Regions from separate parts of the Homo sapiens genome. Here region 2 is linked to region 1. The links come from fine-mapping of genetic effects on gene expression. A gene starts in region 1. The other region holds a variant in brackets. All regions are shown on one strand. Distances are between the middles of the regions.

Evidence for each region. PIP is the estimated chance that this variant, and not a neighbour inherited with it, causes the effect.
Region 2: its variant is the best candidate, but not a certain one, in a credible set for the expression of LINC00639 in whole blood (TOPMed, PIP 0.57).

What each region holds. Positions count from the first base shown.
Region 1 is chr14:38,914,478-38,918,880 of GRCh38, forward strand. LINC00639 (long intergenic non-protein coding RNA 639) reads right to left here and starts at 2,405. Exons shown (of 5, transcript NR_039982.1): 1 at 2,305-2,405. All of the region lies in intron 4 of LOC105370457 (a long non-coding RNA gene), which reads left to right.
Region 2 is chr14:38,856,794-38,861,196 of GRCh38, forward strand. All of the region lies in intron 2 of LINC00639 (long intergenic non-protein coding RNA 639), which reads right to left. Among named protein-coding and RNA genes, the nearest start is that of LINC00639, 58 kb to the right of the region's middle. The variant G/A (reference allele first, on the strand shown) is at 1,840.

The DNA of each region.
Region 1 (4,403 bases):
ATCACCTGAGGTCAGAAGTTCAAGACCAGCCTGGCCAACATGGCAAAACCCCATCTCTACTAAAAATACAAAAATAGCCAGGTGTAGTGGTGGGCATCTGTAATCCCAGCTGCTTGGGAGGCTGAGGCAGACAGAACTGCTTGAACCCAGGAGGAGGATGTTGCAGTGAGCTGAGATTAAGCCATTGTACTTTAAGCTGCATGACAGAGCAAGACTCCATCTCAAAAAAAAGAAAAGAAAGAAAGAAATTAATTCACTGAAAACCACACAGCTACATGGAAATTGAACAACCTGCTCCTGAAGGACTTCTGGGTAAACAATGAAATGAAGGCAGAAATCAAGAAGTTCTTTGAAACTAACAAGAACAAAGATACAATGTACCAGAATATCTGGGACACAGCTAAGGCAGTATTAAGAGGGAAATTTATAGTGCTAAATGCCCACATCAAAAAGTTAGAAAGATCTCAAGTTAACAACCTAACATCACCACTAAAAGAACTAGAGAACCAAGGCCAAGCAAATCCCAAAGCCAGCAGAAGAGAAGCAATAACCAGAATCAGAGCTGAACTGAAGGAGATAGAGACATGAAAAACTATTCAAAAGATCAATGAATCCAGGAGCTAGTTTTTGGAAAAAATTAATAAAATAGATAGACCACTAGTTAAACTAATAAAGAAGAAAAGAGAGAAGATTCAAATAAACACAGTCAGAAATGACAAAGAGGATATTACCACTGAACTCACAGAAATACAAACAACCATCAGAGAATATTATGGACACCTCTATGCACATAAACTTGAAAATATAGAAGAAATGAATAAATTCATGGACACACACACCCTTCCTAGAAAAAAGGGATAAATTCCCGGACACACATACCCTCCCAAGACTGAACCAAGAAGAAATTGAATCCCTGAGTAGACCAATAACAAGTTCTGAAATTGAGGTGGTAATAAATAGCCTACCAATCAAAAAAAGCCCAGGTCCAGACAAGTTCACAGCTGAATTCTAGCAGATGTACAAAGAAGAGCTGATACAAAGGCTAGACACAGTGGCCCACACCTGTAATCCCAGCATTTTGGGAAACCAAGGTGGACAGATCACTTGAGCTCAGGAGTTTGTGACCATCCTGGGCAACATGGCAAAACCCCATCTCTACAAATAATACAAAAAATTAGTAGAGCATGGTTGTGTATGCCTATAGTCTCAACTACTTGGGGGGGCCAGGCAGGAGTTTGTGACCAGACTGGTTGACAAAGTGAGACACTGTCTCAAAAAAAAAAAAAAAGAAGAAGAAGAAGAAGAAAGAAAAAGAAGAGCTGGTACCATTTCCATACATCTTCTGAAGTCTAGGCAGGGGGTCTCAAACCTCAGTTCTTGACTTCTGGGCACCCACAGGCTCAAGACCACATGGAAGCTACCAAGGCTTGGTGCTTCCACCCTTTGAAGCAACAGCCCAAGCTGTACCATGGCCCCTTTTAGTCAGGGCTGGAGTGGCTGGGACACAGGGCACCAAGTCCCTAGACTGCACACAGCACAGGGACCATGGGGCTGGCCCACGAGAGCATTTTCTCCTAGGCCTCTGGGCCTGTAATGGGAGGGGCCGCCATGAAGACCTCTGATATGCCTTGGAGACATTTTTCCCATTGTCTTGGGGATTAACATTTGGCTCCTCATTACTTATGCAAATTTCTACAGCCAGCTTCAATTTCTCCTCAGGAAACCGGTTTTCTTTTTCTATCAAATTATCAGGTTGCAAATTTCCCGAATTTTTATGCTCTGCTTCCCTTATAAAACTGAATGCCTTTAACAGCACACAAGTCACCTCTTGAATGCTTTGCTGCTTAGAAATTTCTTCAGTCAGATACCCTAAATCATCTCTCTCAAGTTCAAAGTTCCACAGATTTCTTGGGCAGGGGCAAAATACCACCAGTCTCTTTGCCAAAACATAACAAGAGTCACCTTTGTTCCAGTTCCCAACAAGTTCCTCATCTCTATCTGAAACAGCCTCGGCCAAGACCTTATTGTCCATATTGCTATCAGGCTTTTGGTCAAAGCCATTCAACAAGTCTCTAAGAAGTTCCAAACCTTCCCACATTTTCCTGTCTTTTTCTGAGCCCTCCAAACCATTCCAGCCTCTGCCTGTTACCGAGTTCCAAAGTCACTTCCACATTTTCAGGTATCTTTTCAGCAGCACACCACTCTACTGCTACCAATTTACTCTATTAGTCCATTTTCTTGCTGCTGATAAAGACATACACAAGACTGGGCAATTTACAAAAGAAAGAGGTTTATTGGACTTACAGTTCCACATAGCTGGGGAGGCTTCACAATTATGGCAGAAGGCAAGGAGCAGCAAATCACATCTTACATGGATGGCAGCAGGCAAAAAAAAAAAAATGACCCTGTTCAGGAAAATTCCTGTTTTTAAAACTGTCAAATCTCGTAAGACCCATCACTATCATGAGAACAGTATGGGAAATACCCACCCCCATGATTTGATTATCTCCCACTGGGTCCCTCCCACAATACATGGGAATTATAGGAGCTATAAGATGAGATTTGGGTGGAGGCACAGAGACAAACCATATCACATGGAATCAACCTATATGTCCACCAACAGTAGACTGGATGAAGAAAATGTGATCAATATACACCATGGAATACTATGCAGTAATAAAAAAGAAAGAGATATGTCCTTTGCAAGAACACAGATGGAACTGGAGGCCACTATCCTTAGCAAACTAATACAGGAACAGAAAACCAAATACTGCCTGTTCTCATTTATAAGTGGGAGCTAAATGATGAGAACACATGGACACACAGAGAGGAACAACACACACTGGGGCCTTTCAGAGGCTGGAGGGTGGGAGAAGGAAGACAATCAGGAAAAATAACTAATAATTAAATAACTAATGGGTATTAGGCTTAAGATCTGGGTGACAAAATCTGTACAACAAACTCCCATGACACAAGTTTACCTATGTAACAAACCTGCATTTATACCCCTGGACTTAAAATAAAACTTTTAAAAAATAAACAAATGATAATAGCAGATTATAGCCCATTAAATAAACTAGGAATTCATGAGTTCAAATTACATAAACAAACAAATAATTATTCCTTACATAAGAATGCTAATTACTGTATGCAGAAGGAAAGGTAGAATTGGAAGGTCATTATTTGGCAACTATTATAGTAGTAGTTGATTGAAGAAGAAAGCATCAAATGATGCTGAATCTGAGTGAAGGTTTGATGACAACCAACATGGTCTCAAATTATCTCCCCACAAAGTGCTGTTAACTGCAAAGGGGAGATGAGTTACTTTGCAGTCATAAATGTTGTATCACTGGGCACAGTGGCTCATGCTTATAATCCTAGCATGTGGGAAGCTGAGGTAGGCTATTTTCTTTTAGTAATTTCATGGCTTGTGGTCTTAGATTTAAGTCTTTAATCAATTTTAATTTGACTTTTGTATATGGCAAGAGATAGGGGTCTAGTTTCATTCTTCTGCCTATGGATATCCAGTTTTCCAAGCCCCACTTATTGAAGAGACTGCCTTTTCTCCAACATATATTCTCGGTACCTTTGTTGAAAACAAGTTTACTGTAGATGTATGAGTTTGTTTCTGGGTTCTCTATTGTGTTTCATTAGTCTATGTGTCTGTTTTTATGCCAGTACTATGCTGTTTTGGTTACTGTAGCCCTGTAGTATAATGTAAATGACAAGTTAACCAGTGCAGCACACCAACATGGCACATGTATACATATGTAACAAACCTGCACATTGTGCACATGTACCCTAGAACTTAAAGTATAACAAAAAAAAAGAAAAGAAAAGAAAGGAACAGAGGAAAAGGAGGAAGGAAGGAAGGAAGAAAGGAAGGAAGGAAAAGAGGGAGGGAGGGAGGTTGTATTAAAATGAGAAAATTGATTAGTTCACAAATTATGCATTAAAAGGCCCACAGTTTACTAGATCTATAAATTCCTCAGAACCCCTAAATACATTGGCTTTTTAGAATAAGTGTTAAATACACACACACACACGAACACACACAACCCACAATACAACTGATGTGGCCTTGTGGAAGGAATACGTAAAGCTATTTGCATTATAGTGCTAATTTAGCTTTTCTTTACATTGAACCTTAATAACCAGAATCTGCTTCTTTGTAACTTCTGTCCATTTATCCAGTTTCCACCCAAGGAGAGAGAGCAAGTCTCATTGCTCAACTATTCTAAATCTGCCACCACGATCCCCTAAATCTTTTCCAGGCTGAACACTCCAGATTTCTTCTACTCTTCCTTAACTGATAGGACTTTAGTTCTCTTGGCTGCTTTTCTCTGAAGTATCCCATTTTGTCTGAGACAGTACTGTGACGGTACTATGATACCTCTGAAACA
Region 2 (4,403 bases), 58 kb before region 1:
ACAAACCACCCCAGTCAAGAAATAGAATATTGTCAGCACCCCAGAAGCCACAACATGCCCCATTCTGATAAAAGTTCCACTCCCATCCCCTCTAGAGTTAAGCATTATCCTACTTTTGGCTGTCAATAGGTACCAGTATATTATCAAATTAATAGATGGAATTAGAACTACCCTTCTTTGACATCTAAGTGTCATCCATCCCTATAAAGGATATGATCTCATTCTTTTTCATGGCTGCATAGTATTCCATGGTGTATATGTGTCACATTTTCTTTACTCAGTCTACCATTGATGGGCATTTGGGTTGTTTCCAAGTCTTTGCTCTTGTAAATAGTGCTGCAATAAATATGTGCAAGAGCACATATTCTTTCATTGGCCATTGTTACTCTAGTATTTGCCAACCTGATAGATGGTAAGTGGTATCTCATGGTTGCTTTATTTTTTTTTTCAACTATTATTTTAATTTCAGGGGGTACATGTGCAGGTTTGTTACCTGGGTATAGTGTGTGATGCTGAAGTTTGGGCTATAAATGATTCCATCACCTAGGTACTGAGTATAGTACCCAATAGTTAGCTTTTCAACCCTTGGCTCCCCCTCTCTTCTCATTCTAATAGTCCACAGTTTCTATTGTTCTCAACTTTATGTCCATGAGCACTCAATGTTTAGCTCTCACTTGTAAGTGAGGACATGAGGTTTTTTATTTTCTGTTCCTGTGTTAATAATTTGCTTAAGATAATGGCCTCCAGCTGCATTCATGTTACTGCAAAGGACATGATTTCATTCTTCTTATGACTGCATAGTATTCCATGGCATATATGTAACACATTTTCTTTATCCAATCTGTTATTAATGGGCACCTAGGTTGATTCTGTGTCTTTGCTATTGTGACTAGTGCTGCAATGAATACACAAGTATATGTGTCTTTTTGGTAGAAAAATGTGTGTTTTCAGGAACAGAAAGCCAAACACGGCATGTTCTCATTCATAAGTGGGAGTTGAACAATGAGAACACATGGGCACAGGGAGGGGAATATCACACACCGTGGGGGTTGGGGGGCTAGGGGAGGGATAGCATTAGGAGAAATACCTAATGTAGATGACGGGTTGATGCGTGCAGCAAACCACGATGGCACGTGTATACCTATGTAGCAAACCTGCATGTTCTGCACATGTATCCCAGAACTTAAAGTATAATTAAAAAAAAACAAACAAAGGCGGCCGGGCACAGTGGCTCACGCCTGTAATCCCAGCACTTTGGGAGGCCAAGGTGGGTGGATCACAAGGTCAGGAGATTGAGACCATCCTGGCTAACACCGTGAAACCCCGTCTCCACTAAAAATACAAAAAATTAGCCGGGCGTGGTGGCAGGCGCCTGTAGTCCCAGCTACTTGGGAGGCTGAGACAGGAGAATCACTTGAACCCGGGAGACGGAGCTTGCAGTGAGCCGAGATCATGCCACTGCACTCCAGCTTGGGTGACAGAGTGGGATTCTGACTCAAAAAAAAAAAAAAAAAAAGGCAAAACAAAAAAAGAAAAATGTGTGTTTTCTTTTGGATGTATACCCAGTAATGGGATTGCTCAGTCAAATGGTAGTTCTCTTTTAAGTTCTTTGAGAAATCTCCAAACTGCTTTCCACGGTGGCCAAATTAATTTACATTCCCACCAATAGTGTATAAATGTTGCCTTTTCTCCAGATCCTCGCCAGCATCTTGTTTTCTACTTTTTATTAATAGCCATTCTGACTGGTGTGAGATGGTTCTCATGGTGGTTCTGATTTGCATTTCTCTGATAATTAATGATGACAAGCATTTCTTCATATGTTTCATATGTTGGCCACTT[G/A]TATGTCCTCTTTTGAGAAGTGTCTGTTGATGTCTTTTGCCCATTTTTAATGGGGTTATTTGCTTTTGCTTGCTCAATTGTTTAAATTCCTTATAGATTCTGGATATTAGATCTTTGTTGGATGCACAGTTTGCGAATATTTTCTCCTGTTGTCTGTTTACTCTGTTGACAGTTTATTTTGCTGTGCAGAAGTTCTTTAGTTTAATTCGGTCTCACTTATCAATTTTCATTTTTGTTGCAGTTGCTCAAGGACTTCTTCATAAATTCTTTCCCAACACCAATGTCCAGAATGGTGTCTCCTAGGTTTTCTTCTAGAATTCTTAGAGTTTGAAGTCTTACATTTAAATATTTAATCCATCTCGAGTTAATTTTTGTTTATGGTGAAATGTAGGGGTCCAGTTTCATTTTTCTGCATATCGGTAGCCAGTTATCCCAGCACCACTTATTGAATAGGGAGTCCTTTTTCCATTGTTTATTTTTGTTCACTTTGTCAAAGATGACATGGCTATAACTGCACAGCTTTATTTCTGAGTTCTCTATTTTGTTCCATTAGTCTATGTGTCTATTTTTGTACCAGTATCATGCAGTTTTGGTAGCTGTAGCCTTATAGCATAATTTGAAGTCAGGTAATATGATGCCTCCAGCTTTGTTCTTTTTGCTTAGGCTTGCTTTTGCTATTTGGACTCTTTCTTGGTTCCCTATGAATTTTACAATAGTTTTTTCCTAGTTCTGTGAAAAATGGCATTGGTAGTTTTATAGAAAGAGCATTGAATCTGTAGATTGCTTTAGGCAGTATGGCATTTTAACAATATTGATTCTTCCAATCCATAAGCATAGAATGTTTTTTCATTTGTTTGTGTTATCTATGATGTCTTTTAGCAGTGCTTTGTCGTATTCTTTGTAGAGATCTTTCATCCCCTTTATTAGATGTATTCCTAGGTATTTTTTTCTGTGTATGGCTATTGTTAATAAGATTGCATTCTTGATTTGGTTCTCAGCTTGAACATTATTGATTTTTAGAAATACTGCTAATTTTTGTACATTGACTTTGTATCCTGAAACTTTACTGAAGTTGTTTATTAGTTCCAGGAGCCTTTTGGTGGAGACTACGGTTTTCTAGGTATAGTCTACGAAAAATTGTTTGACTTTTTCTTTTCCTGCTTGGGTGCGTTTTCTTTCTTTCTCGTCTGATTGCTCTGGCTAGCACATCCAGTACTATGTTGAATCGGAGTGACGAAAGTGGGCATCCTTGCCTTGTTCTAGTCCTCAAAGGGAATGCTTCCAGGTTTTGCCCATTCAGTATGATGTTGGCTGTGGATTTATCACAGATGGATCTTGTCATTTTGAGGTATGTTCCTTCACCATCTAATTTCTTGAGGGTTTTTTTTTAATGAAGAGATATTGGATTTTATCAAAAGCTTTTCCATGTCTATTCAGAGGATCATATGGTTTGTGTTTTTAATTCCATTTATGTGATTCATCACATTTATTGATTTGCATATGTTGAACCGACTTTGCATCATAAGAAAGAAGCCAGCTTAATCATCGTGAATTAACTTTTTTGACATGCTGTTGAATTCAGTTCGCTAGTATTTTGTTGAGGATTTTTGTGTCCATGTTTATCAGGAATATTGGCCTTTAGTTTTCTTTCTTCATTGTGTCTTTGCCAGATTTCATATTAGGGTGATGATGCTGGCTCCACAGAATGAGTTAGGAAGGAATCCCTCCTTCTTGATTTTTTTGGTATAGTTTCATTAGGATTAGAACTAATTATTTCAATATGTGATAGAATTCAGCTATGAATCTATTTGGTCCAGGGCCTTTTCGATTTGGTAGTTTTTTTTATTACCAATTCAATTTCAGAATACAATATTGGTCTGTTCAGTATTTCAATTTCTTCTTGATTCAATCTTAGGAGATTGTGTGTTTCCAGGAATTTATTTGTGTACTTCCTCTAGATTTCCTAGTTTGTGTGAATAGAGGTGTTCATAATAGTGTCTGAGGATCTTTTGTATTTCCATGGGATCAGTTGTAATGTCACCTTTGTTGCTTCTGGTTGTGTTTATTTGAATCTTCTCTTTCTCTCTTTTTTTTTTTCTTTCTTGTTAATCCAGCTAGCGCTCTATCCTTTTGGTTTTATTGATTTTTTAATGGGTTTTGGGTTCTCAATTTCATTCAGTTCCTCTCTGATTTTAGTTATTTATTTTCTTCTGCTAGCTTTGAGGTTAGTTTGTTCTTGTTTTCCTAGTTCCTGTAGATGTGGTATTAGATCATTAATTTGAGGTCTTCCTAACTTCTTGAGTTAGGTATTCAGCACTATTAAAAAAATTTTTTTTAATTATTTGAAATAAATAAAAACAAAGACACAACATATCTCTTCTGCCTATTTAAGTATTGTTGGGAAGTCCTATTAGCCTGATGGGGTTCATTTTGTATGTAATTTGATCTTTTTCTCAGCTGCCTTTAAGATTTTTTCATTAAAATTGACTTTGGACTGTTTGGTGACTTAAGTGCCCTGGTGATGTTCATTTTGTATAGTATCCTGCCGGTGTTTTCTGGATTTC